Linked DNA regions of Homo sapiens. The protein of the gene in region 1 purifies or fractionates together with the protein of each later gene. This does not show direct contact. Each region holds a gene or a part of one and is shown in the gene's direction. Other genes may lie near its edges.

What was found. Proteins that work in one complex are often made in the same cells at the same time.
Region 2: the proteins of RPH3A (region 1) and RAB8B purify together in Homo sapiens (affinity purification with mass spectrometry; 2 studies listed by BioGRID and IntAct, with this or other methods). This does not show direct contact.
Region 3: the proteins of RPH3A (region 1) and RAB27A purify together in Homo sapiens (affinity purification with mass spectrometry; 2 studies listed by BioGRID and IntAct, with this or other methods). This does not show direct contact.

Annotation. Positions count from the first base shown.
Region 1 is NC_000012.12:112,892,732-112,899,405, forward strand, and holds the end of RPH3A (rabphilin-3A), read left to right. Parts: intron 1-1,846; coding exon 1,847-1,928; intron 1,929-3,045; coding exon 3,046-3,142; intron 3,143-3,918; coding exon 3,919-4,049; 3' UTR 4,050-6,150; downstream 6,151-6,674. UniProt on the Homo sapiens protein: Plays an essential role in docking and fusion steps of regulated exocytosis.
Region 2 is NC_000015.10:63,255,586-63,262,625, forward strand, and holds part of RAB8B (ras-related protein Rab-8B), read left to right. Parts: intron 1-919; coding exon 920-1,009; intron 1,010-4,041; coding exon 4,042-4,107; intron 4,108-7,040. UniProt on the Homo sapiens protein: The small GTPases Rab are key regulators of intracellular membrane trafficking, from the formation of transport vesicles to their fusion with membranes.
Region 3 is NC_000015.10:55,202,794-55,209,833, reverse strand, and holds the end of RAB27A (ras-related protein Rab-27A), read left to right. Parts: intron 1-4,128; coding exon 4,129-4,327; 3' UTR 4,328-6,868; downstream 6,869-7,040. UniProt on the Homo sapiens protein: Small GTPase which cycles between active GTP-bound and inactive GDP-bound states. In its active state, binds to a variety of effector proteins to regulate homeostasis of late endocytic pathway, including endosomal positioning, maturation and secretion.

The DNA of each region.
Region 1 (6,674 bases):
CTGCCATTATGGTTATAAATAACCACCATCACTGTCCTTACTCATGGCAGAGAGTATTTACTAATATCCCCTCCAGTTGGGAGACACTCCCCCCACCTCCACTGCCTCTGATAACAGAAAGCAATACTTCCCTTTAGTCCATGGCCAAAGAACAGATCCATGTGGGCTGTCTTTCACATTTCCTTTGAATGAAGATTTAGTTAACAAAGAACACACAGGTCAGGGACAAGTTTGGTTTCTAAGAGTAATTTGATTTTATTTCCTCGTATGACCCAAGAGAGGAAATGAGCTCAAGGGGTGCTGTCCAGCACTCCATTAGAGGTCAGCCATGTGCAGATTGGTTTTCTTAAATAATTCTCTCTACCACCCCCTCCCCCACCTACCCAATCCTTCCAGAAGAAGTAGAATTGCCGTGGTCACTACTGAAGCAGCTGACCTGCTGGGTGCAGTTATGGGAGAAAAAATGGGAGACCACTAAGCAGTTTCTGATCAAATAAAGATTTTTTAAAAGCCAGAACTTCCCATTATTTTTGCTTAGCTCTTTGGTAACTTCTAATTCCTCATTTTTGTCTCTTCTTAAAAATTATCCTCAAAACCACTTCTGTAGATGAGAATGAAATGTTCGCCCTCTTTACAGGTCAAGAAACAGAGGCACGGTAAAGTTACGCTCATGTTTAAAGTTGCTCCGCTGGTGACAACCTGAATCAGAATCCAAATGTCCCAGCCCTTAGGAGTGTTTAGCCCATTGTGTTTACTCACCCAGGAAATATTTTGTTTTGTTTGGTTTGTGTTTTGTTCTCTCTCTCTTTTTTAAGAGACAGGGTCTCGCTCTATTGCCCAGGCTGTAGTGCAGTGGTGTGATCATAGCTCACTGCAGCCTCGAACTCTGGGGCTCAAGAGATCCTTCCACCTCAGCTTCCTGAGTACCTGGGACTGAAGGCATACATCACTGTGCCCAGATAATTTTTGTTATTTTTTATAGAGACAGGCTCTCGCTATGTTGCCCAGGCCGGTCTGGAACTCCTGGGCTCAAGTGATCCTCCCGCTTTGGCCTCCTAAAGTGCAGAGATTACAGGCACGAGCCACCATACGCAGCCTCACCCAGAAAATATTGATTGAGTACCTACTATGTGCCAGACACTGGGCCTCACTGGAAAAGAGCCCTGTAGGCAGAAGAAACAGTTTGCTCAAAGGCCCTTGGGTGGAAAGGAGAAGTAAGGAGTGGGGTGAGGAGGATGGCATAAGGTTAGGTTGGGATGGAGCAGAAACCCAACACACACGGTCTTAAGGCCACATGAAGGATTTTGAACTCTCCCCTGAGTTTAAAAGGAACCCAGTACACAGTTTTGAGAAGTGGAGTGACAATAATCAGATTTGCATCTTCCCCTTTCTGTGCATACACCCAGCCTCTCTCTAGGGATTGGGGGCAGCCTAAGGTGGGATAGATGGTAAAATGCCAGGCACCACCAGCCATGGCCATCAATTTGACTTATGGGGAGAAAGTGAGCATGCTAAGAACACAGACTCTAGATGCAACATCTGGATTCAATCCCAGCTGTGTGAGCTAGGGCACACTTCTGCCTCTCTGGATCTCAGTTTCTGTTTCTGTAAACTGAGTGGTTGTGGTTCTACTGCCTAGGGTCATGTGGGGATTAAATATGCCTAAGTTGCTCAGTCAAGTGCCTGGTACCAAGCAGATGCTCTAATGCATATTGGTCATTATCAATGTTGATCCCTTTCTGATTTATTCATCAATTCACCCTGATAAAGAAGGGGCCTTTGGGGTCAAGAGGCTGTTCTTATTCATTAAACGTCATCCATAATAGCATGTTGTGTCGCCTCCCAGCTGGCTGAAACCGGACATGGGAAAGAAGGCCAAACACAAGACTCAAATTAAAAAGAAAACCTTGAATCCCGAATTCAATGAGGTAAGGCTGCCCTATTCTTTTTCATGCTCTGGGATATTTGCTGTGTGTTAGAGAGGCACAAATAGCCACATAGCCATTAAATATGTGGCCACATAGCCATTAAATGCAGCCATTTGAAATGATGATGTAGAAAAATATTTGAAAAATATTTGAGAACATGCTAAGTTGGTTTTTGCCCAAAGTTGTAAATGAAAAAGGAAGTGACAATACTGTATGTTCAGCATTACTTAGTTAACAAAAAATTTATACATCACTGTGAACACATGTGGGGGAATGTTGACATGGTTATTCTTGGGTAGTTGGATTACCGGGAATTGGGGGTGGGGGTTCTTCTTTGTTTTAGCAATGAACATAAAATGAATTTTGTAATTAGGCAGAGAAGCTATTTTTTAAAAATCAGATTGTCTGGGAACATATGTACTCAGTCCACTTCAACTGTATTTATTTATTTATTTATTTTTGAGACAGAGTCTCACTCTGTGGCCTAGGCTGGAGTGCAGTGGCGTGATCTTGGCTCACTGCAACCTCCACCTCCCTGGTTCAAGCAATTCTCCTGCCTCAGCTTCCCGAATAGCTGCAATTACAGGTGCCCACCACCATGCCTGGCTAATTTTTGTATTTTTAGTAGAGATGGGGTTTCACCATGTTGGTCAGGCTGGTCTCGAACTCCTGAGCTCAAATGAGCCACCATCTCAGCCTCCCAAAGTGCTGGAATTACAGGTGTGAGCCACCGGGCCCGGCCACTTCAACTACTTTTATTCCTAAGCAATAAAAAAGGGGATGCCCCTTCATAAACTACCAGAGGGGAAGGACTATGTTCATGGCCATTTACCTACAAGGAAACTTGAGCTCTATTAGAAAAACCTCACCAGCCTTCCCAATTTCAAGCAGAGAATTCACTGAAAAGAGGATGACAGTGCTTTGTTACACAGAGTGTTTGTTGGAAGGGGATCACGGGACCTGGGGCAGAGGATCGGCACGGGAAGACCTCCTTGCTCCCAGAATGCCAGCTCAAGGACCTCTCCTTGGCCCATAACCCCTAGGACTCGGCCTCTTACCTCCCAATGCTGTGGGTTCAGAGGGCTCTTACCCACATGTCTTCCTCTGTTGTATTCAGGAGTTTTTCTATGACATCAAACACAGTGACCTGGCAAAGAAGTCACTGGACATTTCAGTCTGGGACTATGACATCGGCAAGTCCAATGATTACATCGGTGAGTGTTCCTAACTCCAGAGAAAACGCCCTCTTCTGTCCTCCCCAGAACAGGAGAGCCTTATCCAGGGCTACAGAGAGTTGAGGTCATTGCTATTCTTTTGGCAACCTCATTGTTCAAATGCTAAATTGAGACCCATGATCTTGACCTTGGTCCAATTTGGGGATGTCTTTACATGAAAAGCCTTACAAAACTTGATTATTTGTTGAACAAATCACCTCCAGTGGGGTAATTAAATCACAGGAGAGATTTGCGTTCTCTGCAGAAAGCAGGGTGCAAAAGAATTCTTAATTTATTTGCATGTCCAGGATAAAATTTTTAATTTTTTAGTTCCTGTTTGAATCATGAGGAAGAAAATCAATTAAAGATGAAGCAGGGGGGTGGGGACTCCAGGCAAGGGACAGAGCCTGAGCTAAGGGGTAAAGACAGGATTGAGCAGGATGATGAACCTTTTTGGAAATAGACAATGAGTTCCCAGAAGTAGTGGGAGATAAGTTTCAGTGAGTAGAATGGTGATTTGTAGAAAGCCTTTAAAAATAGACAGTGAAATTATGACTCAGTGGAACAGTAGGGAGCCATTGCAGGTTCTTGAGGCAGAGAAGGACCGTAATAATAATAACAACAACAGCAGCAACGTTATAACAACTCTCTATAGAGTATGGATCCCAGGTTGCTGGGGGTCACTGCTTGGTGCAGTTTTTTCCCCAACTACACATTTGGGTCTAGAACGACCTCTATTCTGACCACCTGCTCCTATCTTCCCATTTATCCTCCAGGAGGCTGCCAGCTGGGGATCTCTGCCAAGGGAGAGCGCTTAAAACACTGGTACGAGTGTCTGAAAAATAAAGACAAGAAGATAGAGCGCTGGCACCAGCTACAGAATGAGAACCACGTGTCAAGTGATTAGGCTAGTGCCCAGGTCCCCATCTCCATGTCCCGGGTCCCCCCCAGCCTGCTCTAGCTGCCCACCGCACCCTGATCTCTCTTCTCTATGCCTACCTCCCCCCATACCCTGCTGATCTCCCTGAGCCTGCCTTTGAGCCCCCGTCACGTTGGGCACTGCTGCCAAAGACTCCCTCCTCCCTGATGCTGGGATGTGGGCTCTGAATACAGCCCCTCTCTCATCCCTGGGATGGAGCAATGGGGATGGGGTTGGGGAGACGTTTACAAAGAGGTTGATCATTTAATAACCTCTCAGTTTGGGTAAATTACAAAGGTTCTTCATCATTTAGGACTGTTTTTAGACCCTCCTAGCCTTGAACACACACATGTACACACACACACACACACACACACACACACCCTTTCATTCCCTGTGTTGTGTCTCTGTATATCCCCAGTTGTCAGCAGACCCGGACAATGCTGTGAGAGAAGCATTGGGGCACAAATAGAGCCTCCGGGCTCCCACTGCCCCCTGAGATGTACACCCTGATTGCCAGGAAAACAGACTGCTGTGTTCAGTAACACACCCTCCCTGCTCCAAGTGCACCAGGATGCAAATGCACAGAATTCACCAGGGGCTTGGACGCTCTCCTCTTTCCGAATGTCACCTGTGTGCTTCCTAGCAAAACAAAAACAAACGACAACAACAAAAAACCCTTCCTCTGTCACCTTTTCTCCTCCTCCCTCTTCTTTCCCTTCCATGATAGTAGATTCTCTCTTTCTCAGCCTCTCCCCTCTCCTTTCTCTCCCTGCCTTTCTTCCCTTTGCCTTTCTCTCTCTCTAAAGCAGTAACACCGCAAAAACAACAGCAAAAAAAGTGTATGTTAACCTAGCCTCACCCCCTTGCTCTCACCAGCCTGACCAGGAAACTGAGAAACTGGCCCAAACCTGAGATTCCACTTGGGCCCACGCTTCTTAACTGACCCACTCCTCCCGTTGGCAGAACCAGACATTCCCAGGGCTTGGGCCAATGGCTGGCACTGCCCTGAGTGCATGGCAGCATCCCTCAAGCTGTGTAGATGCCCCATAGAGGACTCTCTCATCCGTGGGCTCCCCGGGTGGGCACGGAGGCATTTAGAAGACCAGGGCCATGGGTCTGAGGAAGCCTCAGCCAAAGCCTCCAGCCTTTCTCCTTTCTCCGCTCTTAGGTAAATGAACAAGCTACCCTCCTCCCCAATGCCCTTGACTCTGTTTCATTGACTCTTTTGCATCCCATCTCTCACTCAGAACCCCCTCCAGTCTCTCTGTCTCTCTTTGTCTGTCTCTCTGTCTCCTGCACTCTCGTTACTAAGCTTCCTGGGAGAATCAAATAATATCATGGCTATGGAACAGTAGAGAGAGACAGGCCTGATGCCAAAGGCTTTGGGCTCATCATCAATCTTTCACTTTCTTCCTATAAAAAAAATTATTTTATAAAGGAGGAAAAGGCAATGTGGGCAAACATTACAAATTTGAGGTTGAAGTCAGGCAATCTTCAATGCCCTGTGAGAAAGGTTCGATTTTCCCAATTTTGATGAAGTCTTCCCTCATGAAAATCACTCCCAGTCATCCCAAACCCCTGACATTCTCTACAGAAGCATCAGACAGATACTCAAACTCTCACTTTCCCCAAATCACATCTCTTAACTTTTCAACGCCCTCCACCCTCAGCTCCCTGCACAATTCATGGGAGGACTCATTTCTTGCCTTGAATAACCATTTTCTAAACATCGAGCTCTTCACCTTCCCCAAGGTGGCCAACAGCTTCCTGGCTGCCATCTTTCCTTTTGACCTTATCTTTCCCCATTAGTCCCTGGTGGCACCTACTCTCAGCCCACCTCCCTCACCACAGTTTCCCCTTAGGAGACAGCATGCTGGCTGTGTCGCCCAAGCCTGATGCTGGTGTAGGCGCTGGAATCAGCATGCAGCAAGCTCACAGTGCCCCTAGTCTGGGTGCCCGCTGTCCCCGACAAATGTAACCACCTCCCTGCCTAGAATACACACACGTCCTCCGGTGCATGCACAACCACCCAGCATCTTTCTTTGTGATGATGTAGCCAAAAATAAAGTAGGAGCATCCAAGAAAACGAGTGGTCTGCAGTTTTCCTTTCTGGTTTCTGCGAAGTCCTCCTCCCCACCAGGACATATGCTATTCTGATAGTCAGTACTTAATGAGCATCTACTATGTTCCAGGCACTGGCGACAGATGTGTTCTCTGCCCACGAGGAGTTTGCTTTATGGTGGATTTTATCTTGGGCAGGTGGGCCTAAGGTAACTTGGCTGACTCCAAACCCTTCTAGAAGAATACTTTTTGCTGGTGCCTACCAAACAGGAGGGCAACATCCTCATCCTCCTCCTGCTGCTACAAGACCTGGGAAACGTCCCAGGTGGTTGCAGAATCAGAAATTGCCAAAGCTAAAAGAGAACATACAATTGAGCCACAACCTAGTTCAATCAACTCACTTTTTAGACAGATGAAGAAACCAAGGTCCAGAGAAGAAAATGCCATGTCCAGTGTTAAACAAAGGCAATACCAGGAAAGGAGTTCGATCGTTGGACTCCCAGAATCCAGTGTTCTTCACACACTGATCGATGAGCATGGACCATCAAA
Region 2 (7,040 bases), on another chromosome or scaffold:
TATGTGTGGAAAGAGAATGGTGACATTGGAGAAGAGTCCTGCTGGGTGCTTGTAAAAGGCTCCTCTGTCTGCAAGGCAGCTGAGCTGCTTAGAAGCAGGGCATGGGCAGGTTGGGCCCTCTCTCTCTGAAGAGCTCCATAAATCTCTGGTGCTGCCAGTCTGACTACTGGGGGTTAGGGGGACAGAGAAGTAACGTCACAAGATTTTAAGCTTGGGCCAGATATGGGAAATAATTTAATCCTAGATCACATTTTACACATGAATAACTGAGAACAGAAAGAAGTGATTTGCCTGTGCTCATACAGCCTTTAAAAAGAAGAGCCAGGATTAAAACATCTGGTTCCCAGCTTCTATCCCACCATGCTGTTTGGCTAGCAACAATTATCTCTTTACCTTGGCAACTTTTTGCCCTTCTGACATTTTCTCCATCTTAGATATTTGAAGATTGTTTTAATTCCAGGATAATTGGTATTAAGATTTTTTTAATGTCTTTGTCACTTAAGAAAGAAATCTGACTCTGAAATAATTTTGTACACGTTTCTATAAACTTAGATGAATTTCTTTTTAAAATAGTACAGAATCTAGAATACCATCTCCACTGGTTCACTCAGTACCAAGTTTTTGTCCTTCTTTGACCTGAATATTTGGAAATTTTGTCATTAGATCACCATAAGCTTTATTTGTGTTTGTTCCACCTTCTTTCCAAACCTCGGGAAGAAGGTTTGCACAGGCTCTGTGAGGGCTCTTGTACTGTAGCTTTGCCCCTCTTCCCATCTTTAAACTTTTCTCTGAATTAGGCCTTGTGTGAGTAAAAGATTATGTCTTATTAAATTCATGTGTTTCTGACAGGTTGGATTTGTCTATTAAGTAACGGGTTTTTCTCAGGCTGTTTTTATAGCATGCTATTTTCTCCCTGCAGCATGCCTCTTCCGATGTCGAAAGAATGATCCTGGGTAACAAATGTGATATGAATGACAAAAGACAAGTGTCAAAAGAAAGAGGGGAGAAGGTAAATGTGAATGGAATGGATAAAGGTTGGAATCTACTCACATTAAGCATTTCTTTTCTTCATATTATTTAATTATTGATTTTTTTTAAAATCTGTGTTTTAATCCCTTTAAATTGGATATCAACAACAAAGAGATGTAATCCATACTTGAATGGTGTGAATTAGTATTCGAGATCCAGCTCTCTATACTGTGTGGTCATGACTCATTCCTAAAGAATTTGCTAATGTTTTCTGGGAGATACAAATTGGTCCTTTCTCAGATTCCTGCAGCTTAGAGTTCAGGCTGTTTCTTCCAGATCTGTGTGAAAATGCCCAGTTTTGAAGTTAAAGTAAACATTCTTTTTGAAAAAGAAGTTATAGGGATAGGTGAAGTTTCAACAGGAATCATTTTCCAATTCATTTTTTTCCCTAAGAATATTTTACTACACATTAGCGTTAGGTTTTATGGATAAATTCCTTGTAACTGATCAAGCTATGGATGTCATTTATATGTTGTTTATGGGCATGGGCATTTCTCTCTTTTGTGTCCTGTAAAGCAAAGGAATATTTTGTGTACATATTTACTTCTGTGACAGATTCTAAATTGACTTAGAAGCTTCACTTTTTAAGTCTTGGAATTTTGCTTTAGCCTTTAAAAAAATTATATATGCAAAATGCATTTTCTTTTCTTTTTTTTTTTTTTTGAGACAAAGTCTTGCTCTGTCTCCCAGGCTGGAGTGCAGTGGCGTAATCTCAGTTCACTGCAACCTCTGCCTCCTGGCTTCAAGCAATTCTCATGCCTCAGCCTCCAAGAAGGTGGGATTATAGGCATGTGCCACCACACACATATACCCGGCTAATTTTTGTATTTTTAGTAGAGACGCGGTTTTGCCGTGCTGGCCAGGCTGCTCTTGAACTCCCGGCCTCAAGCAATCCACCTGCCTCGGCCTCCCAAAGTGCTGGGATTACAGGTGTGAGGCACCATGCCCAGCCACATTTTGTTTTTCAATCTGACTGTGAACTTTTGCTGCAAACTTTTTTCCCCTAAAAACATTTACTTAATTTTAGCATTGTAAATGAACTAGGAACTTTTTGAGGAATATATAAGAGTTCGCAATTTGTCTCAATCAATAGAAATCAAAGCATGAATACTTTAGTATTTAAGTTTTTGTTCAATTCTGGACTCATTTATTAAAATTAATTAAGGCCTGGCGCAGTGGCTCATACCTGTCATCCCAGCACTTTGGGAGGCCGAGGTGGGTGGATCACGAGGTCAGGAGTTCGAGACCAGCCTGACCAACATGGTGAAACACTGTCTCTACTAAAAATACAAAAATTAGCCGGGCATGGTGGCGTGCGTGCGTCTGTAGTCCCAGCTACTCAGGAGGCTGAGGCAGGAGAATCACTTGAACCCAGGAGGCGGAGGTTGCAGTGAGCTGAGATAGTGCCACTGTACTCCTCCAGCCTGGGCAACAGAGCAAGACTGTGTCTCAAAAAAAAAAAAAAAGTAATTAAAAGTAAGTATAGTTTTTTTTTTTTTTATTTGAGATGGAGTTTCACTCTTGTCACCCAGGCTGGAGTGCAATTGCACAATTTTGGCTCACTACAACCTCTGGCTCCCTGGTTCAAGCGATTCTCCTGTCTCAGCCTCCCAAGTAGCTGGGATTATAGACGTCTGCCACCACACCAGGCTAATTTTTGTATTTTTAGTACAGACGGGGTTTCACCATGCTGGCCAGGCTGGTCTCTTAACTCCTGACCTCAGGTGATCTGCCTGCCTCGACCTCCCAAAGTGCTGGGATTACAGGCGTGAGCCACCACACCCGGCCTAAAAGTCAATACAGTAACTGTTGGAGAATTAAACTTTGGGAGCAGATAAAAGGAGTGAATGAATCCCAAGATAATGGTAGTTTTACCAGTGGAGGGTCTTGACTACAAGTCAGCCAGATTCTTGGCATTTTGAGCAAAGAATTGGACAAAATGCACACACACAAACAATGAAAGAATGAAGCCAAAACCACAAATTTATCGAAATGAAAGTACACTCCACAGAGTGGGAGTGGGCTTGAGCAAGCAGCTTGAGCACTGGTTACAGAATTTTCTGGGGTTTAAATACCCTCTAGAAATTTCCCATGGGTTACTTGGTTTACACTCTGTAAATGAAGTAGTGGCCCATGACCAGTTTGATTGGTTGCAGAAGGTGACCAATCAAAGGATGAAATGAAGTTACAAAGTTATACCCTGCGCAGACGTCTGATTGGTTGTGGGAGGGGACCAATCAGAGGTACTTTCCATTTTTAATCTGTGAGTCAGAAAAGGGGAGGAGGTTGCAAAGGGAGTAACCCCTGTACTTTTGTTACTTGGGCATGGAAGGCTGGGGTTTTTCTTTTGATTTAGTTCTAGGAAGTCAATGTGAATTGGCCTTAGGTTCCCTGCCTCCAGACCCTATTCTGCTACCTTAGGAGGGTGGGTATTTATCCCATATTAGAGAACTAAAAGTACAAAAACAGAAAAAAAGAGAAGTACTTAAATTATTATTATTATTTTATTTATTTATTTATTTTGAGACAGAGTCTCGCTCTGTCACCTGGACTGGAGTGCAGTGGTGCGATCTCGGCTTACTCCAACCTCTGCCTCCTGGGTTCAAGCAATTCTCCTGCCTCAGCCTCCCGGGTAGCTGGGACTACAGGCGGGTGCCACCACGCCCGGCTAATTTTTTGTATTTTTAGTAGAGGCGGGGTTTCATCATGTTAGCAAGGAGGGTCTCGATCTCCTGACCTCGTGATCCGTCTGCCTCGGCCTCCCAAAGTGCGTGAGCCACCATGCCCGGCCTTAAATTATGTTTGAAATGGAAGTTGTGCCATCCTTCTTACGATGATTAAGTTAAATTATTAAATTCTGAATACAGTAGAAGAAAGCAAAGAAATTTGAGAACCACAGGAGTTCTGAAATAGATACCCTACCTTTGAGACTTTGAAAAACCTAAGAAATACAAATGCATTATGTGTTCAAGTATCTTTTGCTAAATTTAAATATTTCTGTTTACTTTTCAGCTAGCAATTGACTATGGGATTAAATTCTTGGAGACAAGCGCAAAATCCAGTGCAAATGTAGAAGAGGTAAGAAGGAAACGTTTGGTGACTGTTACGGAGCAGCACCAGTGCTTAGGGGCCTGTGTTCAAACAGCTCTCAGAGCTTTGGTATTTTCTGACCTAATGAATGCCTTTTGTTGACCCAACTCTACTTTGTACACTTTTGTGCTTCTGATTTTTTTTTTTTTGAGATGGAGTCTCACTCTGTCGCCAGGCTGGAATGCAGTGGCATGATCTCGGCTCACTGCAACCTCTGCCTCCCAGGTTCAAGCGATTCTCCTGCCTCAGCCTCCCGAGTAGCTGGTACTATAGGTGTGCATCACCACGCCCAGCTAATTTTTGTATTTTTAGTAGAAACGGGGTTTCACCATGTTGGCCAGGAGGGTCTCGATCTCTTGACCTCGTGATCCCCTCTCCTTGGCCTCCCAAAGTGCTGGAATTACAGGCGTGAGCCACCATACCCAGCTGCTTCTGATTTTTATGTAGACGCTGGTTGTTGAATTTCTAGCATCTAGCCTCCACCTGGATTATATTAGCTTGCTCAGTTAAGATTCACAGAATAGATTATGGAAGTTCAGTTTTGCCCTTTTTTTGGGCAGCTGGAAATCCTGGACTAGAAGACCAACCAGTATCCTGTGCTCATTCATGTCACCCTGTATGCCTGCAGCAGAAGAGTTAAATCACTTTTAAGGCTGTACTCTCTCAAGGGAGAATTAAGCTGTTAGTTTATTGGACACATTCCTTTAGCGTACACATTTGAGGTAGATTAAGCACAATAAATTGTAACAGTGGCATTTAGTGGAAATAGGAAAGTGTTTATCAGGGAGTAGCTTTAATAAATTTTCATTAAGTTAGCTGTTAAGGAAAACCAAACCATCTAAAGTCTTATGAGAATAGGTTTTCTTCAATACCTAACGTAGATGACTGGTTGATGGTTGCAGAAAACCACCATGGCACGTGTATACCTAGGTAACAAACCTGCATGTTCTATACATGTATCCCAGAACTTAAAGTGTAAAAAAAAAAAATAATAGGTTTTCTTCACCAAGGGAACTGTTATTTTTTTTAAAAAACATTTTTTCAACTGATCATAAAAATAATACGTGTAATTTACATGTGATATGTGTTAATACATGTAATTCTTTTAATAATACTGATAGTTTCATAAACATTTAATTTCCTAGGTTACTCATTGTTCATCATAACATGATGGTTAAAAATCGAGACCTACATGACTTTATTAGCCAGTGGACACTGATCAGAACTTTTTCTTTGTTTTAAATAACGTAACAGTTATTTGTTTAGGTTGGCCGATGGGTGTTAGGAAACAGGAAGCCTCTACTGATTTACTTACACAAGCTTAGATAAGCAGAAAAATGCTTCCCTCTGCTTGATACAAAAGGATTTCCCGCCATCAGAAATAATCCAAGTTAAAAATGGACAAAAGATCTGAATAGACATTTCTCAAAAGAAGACAAATAAATGGCCAACAGGTATATGAAAAAATTCCCGACATCAGTAGTGATCAGGGCAATGCATATCAAAAGTACAGTGAGCTATCATCTCACCCCAATTAAAATGGCTTTTATCAAAGAGATAGGCAATAACAAATGCTGGAAAGGATGTAGAGAAAGGGGAACCCTCATATACTGTGGGTAGGAATGTAAATTAGTACAGCCACTATGGAGAACAATAAAAAAACTAAAAATAGAACTACCATATGATCCAGCAGTCTCACTACTGAGTATTTACCCAAAAGAAAGGGAATCAGTGTATCCACCTAAGTGTCCATCAGTGGATGAATGGATAAAGAAAATGTGGTATGTATACACAATGGAATACTATTCAGCCATAAAAAAAGAGTGAAATCCCATAATTTGCAACAGTATGGATAGAACTCCCTGAACTGGGAGTTGCCTGAGCTGCTTATTCTAGCAAGGCATACAGATGGTAACAACTTTGCCAGAGCTTTAAATCAGTGTGGTTAGGCTCATAGGTGACAAGTTTGACAGTGAGACACTGACAATGAGTAATAATAGTAGTTGTCGTATTGTTTTTATTTGATTGGATTGGAAATAATCCTTTTCCTGAACAGTTTTTGGGGATCAGGAGTGTTGGGAACAAAGAGGTTGATTTAACAATAGGTTTAGCATGGTGACAAATGAAGAATCTTTAACAGTTCCTGGCTTCATAGAAAAAGTGATGATGGATTTAAAAAATATTTGGTTTGTATCAAGAGACATTATGGATAAATTATCACGAAGATTAATCAGATTTGCCCTGCTTCTATTCGAACTGACTTCCATGGTGGGGAATTTAGCCGAGAGCTCCAGGAACTGTTGGGATTTTGGAGTAAGACATGGAAGATTATACATATTCAGCTATAAGAGTGAGAGCAATTTGAAAGAAAAAGCCAGAAATAAAAAGTAGAGATTTTTGTGAAGACATTTTAGAGCTATAGGGTAATACATAATTATTTATTCACTCATTAAACCAGATAGTCAGCATTTCCTAGATCAGCACTGTGCCCTGCTCTAGGGAAGTGGGGTAGCTTAGACAGAGCTTCTGTCCTGTTCTTGGTGTACTGAAGAAGTTACTCGTGACTCAACAAGGGTGTTATTGTGATATTATATCACATGAAGAAAATATTTGATGAATGAATGATAGTTTGATAACATTGGAAAATGTTTATGATACAATCTCAAAAGAGTAAACACATGCATACTATGATTACAATTATTACTTTCTTAATGTAAAGCTTTAAAGTGGTATATTTATATTGAAATAATGAAAAATTCTGTATTTCTGTTTTAAAATAAGTCAGGCATGGTGGCTCACACCTGTAGTCCCAGCTACTTAGGAGACTGAGGTGGGAGGATTGCCTGAGCCCAGGAGTTCCAATTCAGCCAGGGCAACATAGCAAGACCCCATCTCTGAGGCGGGGGGAATATATATATGTG
Region 3 (7,040 bases), on another chromosome or scaffold:
ATATGTATATATACACACATGTGTGTATATATGTATACATACACACATATGTGTGTATATATGTATATGTACACACATACACATATATATGTGTATATATATGTGTATATATATTAGTGGAAGTTTTCTTAAAAGTTTTATGTAAGTTTTCTTAGGAGAGAGATATATATATATCCCAAAAGATATATAGAGATGTATATCAGATATATCAAAAGGGTATTTGCTCTCTGTACTCCCATGTTTATTGCAGCACTATCCACAAGAGCTAAGATATGCAATCAATCTACCCATCAATGGATGAATGGATAAATAAAATATGGTTTATATATACAATGGAATGTTATTCCACCATAAAAAGAATGAAATCCCATCATTTGCAGCAGCTTGGATGGAACTGGAGATCATTATGTTATGTGAAATAGCCAAACACAGAAAGACAAATGTTGCATGTTCTTACTCATATGTGGGAGCTACAAAGGTGGATCTCATGAAGATAGAGAGTAGATTGGAGAATACCAGAGGCCAGGAAGGGTAGGAGGGAGTGGAGGATGAAGAGAGATTGATTAATAGGTACAAACATATGGTTTGATAGAAGAAATAAGATGTAGTGTTAGAAGGATCAGTAGGGTGACTATAGTTTACAACAATCTATTGTATATCTTGAAATAGCTAGGAGGGAAAAATTCCAATCGTTCTAGTATAAAGAAAAGACAAATATTTAAGATTATGGCAATCCCAAGTATACTTATCTTTACACATTATATCAGTGTATTAAATGATCATATTTACTCTGAAACTATATTATGCATAAATAAAAAATAAAATTTTCTTACAGATACAATTGAAGTCCCTTTTAAAATTCCTTGCTGATTCCATTCTCCTTCCTACCTCCTCAGAGGGAACCACACTATATCTACTTCCTATAGCAGATGTTGTTGGTTGCCTAGACAATATTCATGCCTTTATTTATAGAATCTCAATTTTCTTTAGCTATCTACTCTGCTTCTAGAGGACATGCTACTTAAGAGAGGCAGGTGCCAGCCACCAGCCCAGGAAGACTGATTGGTTTAAGCCAGTGATGGTGGTGTACCATTCCTCTTGCCAGAGTTTGGTTTAGGCATTGGCATGTGATACAGTTTTGACCAATGAGACACGAGGGAAAGTCTTCCAGGGACTTGTGGGAAAGATTTCCTCTCTCCTGAGGGAGGCACACAGAGGAAGAGTCCTTTCTTCCTTGGAACTTCGGTGTGTTGAGATGTGATGCCTGGAATGTTTTAACTTCTGGGGTCATGAAGGGAGTCAGATTGTGGAGAAAGCTGACATGTGGAGGATGGCAGAACAGAAGGATGATATGAATCTAGGCTCTTTGTTTCTACCGTTTGGCAACCGAATTAACACTGGAAACTCTCTAGTTCTGTGTTCATTATGCATTACAATAAATTCCTACTTGTGATTCATGCCAATTTGAGCCACAATTTTCGGTTACTTTTAGCTAAAAGCAGTCAAAATTATATATTTCTAGTCCAAGAAGTTGTACTTTTACTACATAGATGTTTTTATAATGATGTGTAATTGTTGTCTTCACACAAATGATCTTGTATCATACAAGTTGGTTTTTTAATTCAATGTTTAATTTTTGCCATGTTGATACAGTTTAAGCATTGTATAATTCATTGTATAAAAATATCACTATTCATGCGCTTATTGATGGACGTTTAGGTAAATTTTTTCCCTATTACAAATAGTTCTGCAATATCTATTCCATTAGACGATGCCACGTGCACATATGTGAGAGCTTCTCTAGGGCTGCACTATCCAGTGTGATAGCCACTGGTCACATGTAGCTATTTAAGTTAAAATTAAAAGTTCAGGTTTTTTGGCCAGGTGTGGTGGCTCATGCCTGTTATCCCAGCACTTTGGGAGTGGAGGCAGACAGATCACTTGAGGTCAGGAGTTTGAGACCAGCCTGGCCAACATGATAAAATTAGCTGGGAGTGGTGGCCTGTTCCTGTAGTCCCAGCTACTTGGGAGGCTGAGGGACGAGAATCGCTTGAACTTGGGAGGCAGAGGTTGCAATGAGCCAATATCACACCATTACACTCCAGCCTGGGCAACAAAGTGAGACTCCATCTCTAAAAAACAAAACAAAACAAAAACAAAAACAAAAAAGTCGCATTTTTGGTTGCATTAGCCACATTTTAAGTGCTCAATAGCTACATGTGGCTAGTAGTTATTGTACTGGATGATATACATATGGAAAGTTCCTGTCACTGTGGGAAGTTCTATTGGATAGTGCTGCTCCAGCACAGGGTTTCTGAATATTTTTCATAGGATGGCACCTGCAGAAAATGATAATATTTGTACAGCTCACTGGGATAAATAGATAAGGCTGCTCAAGTTTGGAGGAGACTGGTTCAGGGACTCTGGCTGCCCTAAGACCTTCTCAGTTGCCCTAAGGACTGAGGGATTGCTGATGTCTCATGTATCCCTGTAACTCACTTCCTGCCCATCAACATGCCTTGGCTCTGCTTTAGATGTATACCCAGGAGTGCTGTTGCTGGGTCATAGTGCATGCATGTTTCAATTTTATCAGATATTACCGTCTTATTTTCCAAAGTAGTTATTAACAGTTTATACTTACATAAGCAGTAAGTGCAAGTTCCTCTTTTCTTCTCCTTGGCAATACTTAATATTGGGAGATTTCTATATTTTTGCCAATCTGATGGGTGTGAGTTAATATACCATTATTTTAACTTGCATTTCCCTTATTTTGGGTGAGGTTGAACATTTTTTCACAAATGTAATTTCTTAGAATTTCCCGTGCATATCCTTAGTCTGTTTTGTATTATCTTGTTTATTACTTTAATTCATTTGAGGAATTATTTTTTCGGATGCTAACCCGTTTGCAAGTTATATGAAATGCCATGTATTTCGGCCTGTCGCTCATCTTTTAACTTTGCTTATGATATATGTTGTGGCACCAAAGTTTTAAACTTTAACATTGTCAAGATTATCAAACTTATTCTCTGTGGTTTGAGCTTTTATAGCTATATTAAGAAATCCTTTCTTATTCCAATGTCAAAAAGATAAGACTGTTGTATGTTCTTCTAAAAGTTTTCAAGTTTTACTTTTCACTTAGAGGAATTTAAACGGCTTTCATACCAATAATCAAGTTTTAAATTCTTAAAACTAGGCTGGGTGCAGCAGCTCACACCTGTAGTCCCAGCACTTTGGAGGCCAAGGCGGGTGGGTAGCTTGAGCTCAGGAGTTCGAAACCAGCCTGGGCAACATGGTAAAACCCTGTCTCTACAAAAAAATACAATAATTAGCCAGGTGTGGTGGTGTGCGCCTGTGGTCCCAGCTACTTGGAAAGCTGAGGTAGGAGGATCGATGCCTGGGAAGTCGCCTGGGAACTGAGATCGTGCCACTGCACTCCAGCCTGGGTGATAGAGACTCTGTCTCAAAACAAAAAACCCTCCAAAAACTTAAACGAAAAAAGATTTAATTCTGTCTCTGTCTTCCAGAATCCCCTACTTATATCTTTTTATAAATTTTTTACAGTAAATCAGTATGTATTGCCAAAATATATATATGGTCCTTTAAAAAATGAAAATTGATTTTTTTTGAGACAGTCTAACTCTATTGCCCAGGCTGGAGTGCGGTGGCACAATATTGGCTCACTGCAACCTCTGCCTCCCAGGTTCAAGTGATTCTTGAGCCTCAGCCTCCCCAGTAGCTGGGATTACAGGTGTATGCCACCATTCCTGGCTAATTTTTGTATTTTTTGTAGAGATGGGGTTTCCGCATGTTGGCCAGGCTGGTCTTAAACTCCTGACCTCAGGTGATCTGCCCACCTGAGCCTCCCAGAGTGCTGGGAGGTGTGAGCCACTGCGCCCAGCCAAAAATTGATATTTTGAAGAGTCTAAAATTTCCAGTTTTGCATATCTACTGGAAATGCAGTGTGAGTATTTTATTGTCTTTTTAACTTTTTAATGTACTCTGGGGTGGTAAAATGTTTGTCATCTTGTATATTTGTATTCTATCGATTCTCTAATTTGAATTATCAAGAGCAAAGGTCACTCTCCTTTCCCTCCACATGTTGTTACCTCAGTTGTCTCTGTCTTCCAGAATCCCCTACTTTGAAACTAGTGCTGCCAATGGGACAAACATAAGCCAAGCAATTGAGATGCTTCTGGACCTGATAATGAAGCGAATGGAACGGTGTGTGGACAAGTCCTGGATTCCTGAAGGAGTGGTGCGATCAAATGGTCATGCCTCTACGGATCAGTTAAGTGAAGAAAAGGAGAAAGGGGCATGTGGCTGTTGAGAAGTCAAGTAAGCGACATAGTAGTTCAGGTGGCCCATGCCTGGGATCTTCTCTATGATTGATACATGGCACAGTGAGAGATTAATGGGCATTGTGTACAAATTGCTTCTCACCATCCCCATTAGACCTACGAATAAAGCATCCGGTTCTAAAATTAATTTGTTGCAGCTTTGTAAATATTTCTTTAAGATTCAGCCTGAGAGTTAGGAGAAATATTTCAGAGCCAAAAGTGCCTTATACAACCTTAGCCTATTATAGTAAATCATTCAAGGATTCAGAATTTTGCAGTCACAGAAGAGTGTATTTATTATGTAGAATGAATGAGGGTACTGTCACCTGCCTTAATGTAGGTAGGCCCAGAGTCTTACATTTAAGATCTTACATGCAGTTATAAAACCGCCACAGTCTTCAATCCAGATTTGAAGACTCATGCCATAGGTGACATTCTAAAATACCATTAAAGCCACTTAAATGTTAAATAAGAATATACATGCACATCAGCTCAATGTCTTTGAGTATTAATTTTATGTAAGCATTCTATTTAACATGAATATAGGACAAATCATGGCTATATCTATAGACCTTGGATAAACTGGATTGACCAATTATACACTCACGGTGACTTTTTTATTGGTGGGAAGGGGATTGGGGTGGGGCAGGCTGGCTTAATGTAATATGAGCAACCAAAGTGGGACTTCTGTCTCCCCGCTATATTCCCATTGCTCTGAATGGTTGATTGAAGGGTCAGGGAACTAGATTTTATGGCTTTAGTTCACTGTGATTGTACATTTATACTTGGCCTATGTGCTGGCCGCACCTGAACATAGCTGGTGCTTATGCCGAGTTATTTGCGATGAGTAAATATTTAGTTTCTTTTTCTTCATATTTATAATGTTGATCTGGCATCCTCAGGCTGCAGCTTTATTAGCTTATAACTTACTCATCTCTATCTTTACCAGCAGGCTCTGTATTGTTGATATTTGCAACTTGTTTTGCTTTTCCATTGGTGGAATTGAAATAATTAGTTTTTAATTACATAAGATGCCTGTTTGCTATTTGGTGGAAGATAGATGTTCATATTGAAGCAGTCACATTTGTACTGTAGTTCAATAAAAGAAAAATGAAGTATTCTGTAGCCTATATTTTTCATAGAGCTCATGAGCATTTACTGTACTTGCTGGGTCTTGCCAAGATCATTTATTCCGCTGCATTGCCAAAGTGTCTTCATACCAAATTAAAGGTGGTTTTAATATATGTTTCATGGAAGTTGTTTATAAAATTCAAAGGTATTTCATTTAGGTGAAAAGTCTTATTTATTAAAGTGGTTTGAATAAAGTAGATCAAAACTTCCAGAGATCTTAATGGCTATATAGGAAGAAATATCACTCACCATAATTTAAATAAAGAATAAAAATACTTGTATTTTGTGGTGGCAAATGTTTGGTAGAACTGTAATTAGAAAAATACAAGTATATTTGCGTGATGGTTACACTAGAAGCCCAGACTTTACGACTACACAATATATTCATGTATCTAAACTGTACTTGTACCCCCTAAATTTATTTTTAAAAAAGGAAAAATAAAAGTATCATGAAAAAACCTATTTTTTTTTCCACTGTCCTTCCACTACTCCCATAACAAACTTATCCATGGTTGGTAAAATTTTACATATTTCTATCCTTGAAATGAAGGCTTCTTTTAAATTCCAAAGAAGTCATGGAGGCCTGTGCATTTGAATTGTATATGCTAGTGAGGAAAAGATTTAGACATTTCAAGAGCAGGGTTGGCCAGGCGCGGTGGCTCACACCTGTAATCCCAGCACTTTGGGAGGCCGAGGAGGGCGGATCACGAGGTCAGGAGATCGAGACCATCCTGGCTAACACAGTGAAACCCCATCTCTACTAAAAAAAAAAAAAAAAAAAAAATGGGCTGGGCGTGGTGGTGGGCACCTGTAGTCCCAGCTACTCAGGAGGCTGAGGCAGGAGAATGGCGTGAACCTGGGAGGCGGAGCTTGCAGTGAGCCGAGATTGCGCCACTGCACTCCAGCCTGGGCGACAGAGGAGACTCTGTCTCAAAAAAAAAAAAAAAAAAAAAGAGCAGGGTCATAATCACACAGCAGTGCCTTATATAGTTGCCATAAGACTTCAGTGCAGTACAACATAATTTTACAGCTACATATCAGGGCATATTCTATATGGTGTATTTGTGTTAGAATAACACATTAAATGTCTTTAAACATAAAAATAAGAATGTTTGCATGTTTCAGTTTTCAAGAACCAAATGAGTAATTAGCTATAGATTCCACTGGCCTTAAACATACAATTAAGTGTATACATGATATAGTGCACACACAAAAGCCACCTTTAATTATTGAAATAACCTGTATTCTTTTTGGAAATCATTTAAGTTTGGTATTGAAGTACTATATTTTTTGTGCATCAATGTATTTTTCTATTTACAAGCCTATGTAAAAGTGAAGTGTATCTTCAGTGAACCATGTGCCAATTAAGCTGTAATAAAAAAGTGGTCTAGTCTGTCAAATTTGTGTGTGAACGTAACTGTATTTATTATCACAAAGTTTCATACCAGAGGTTGTAATGCCAAAGGAAATGAAATTCAGGGATACACGTTCCATTAGGTGCTCACTGAGGGGCCAGCCAAGACAACATATTCTGGAAAAGTAATTAAAAATGTTATCAGGTTGGGCGCAGTG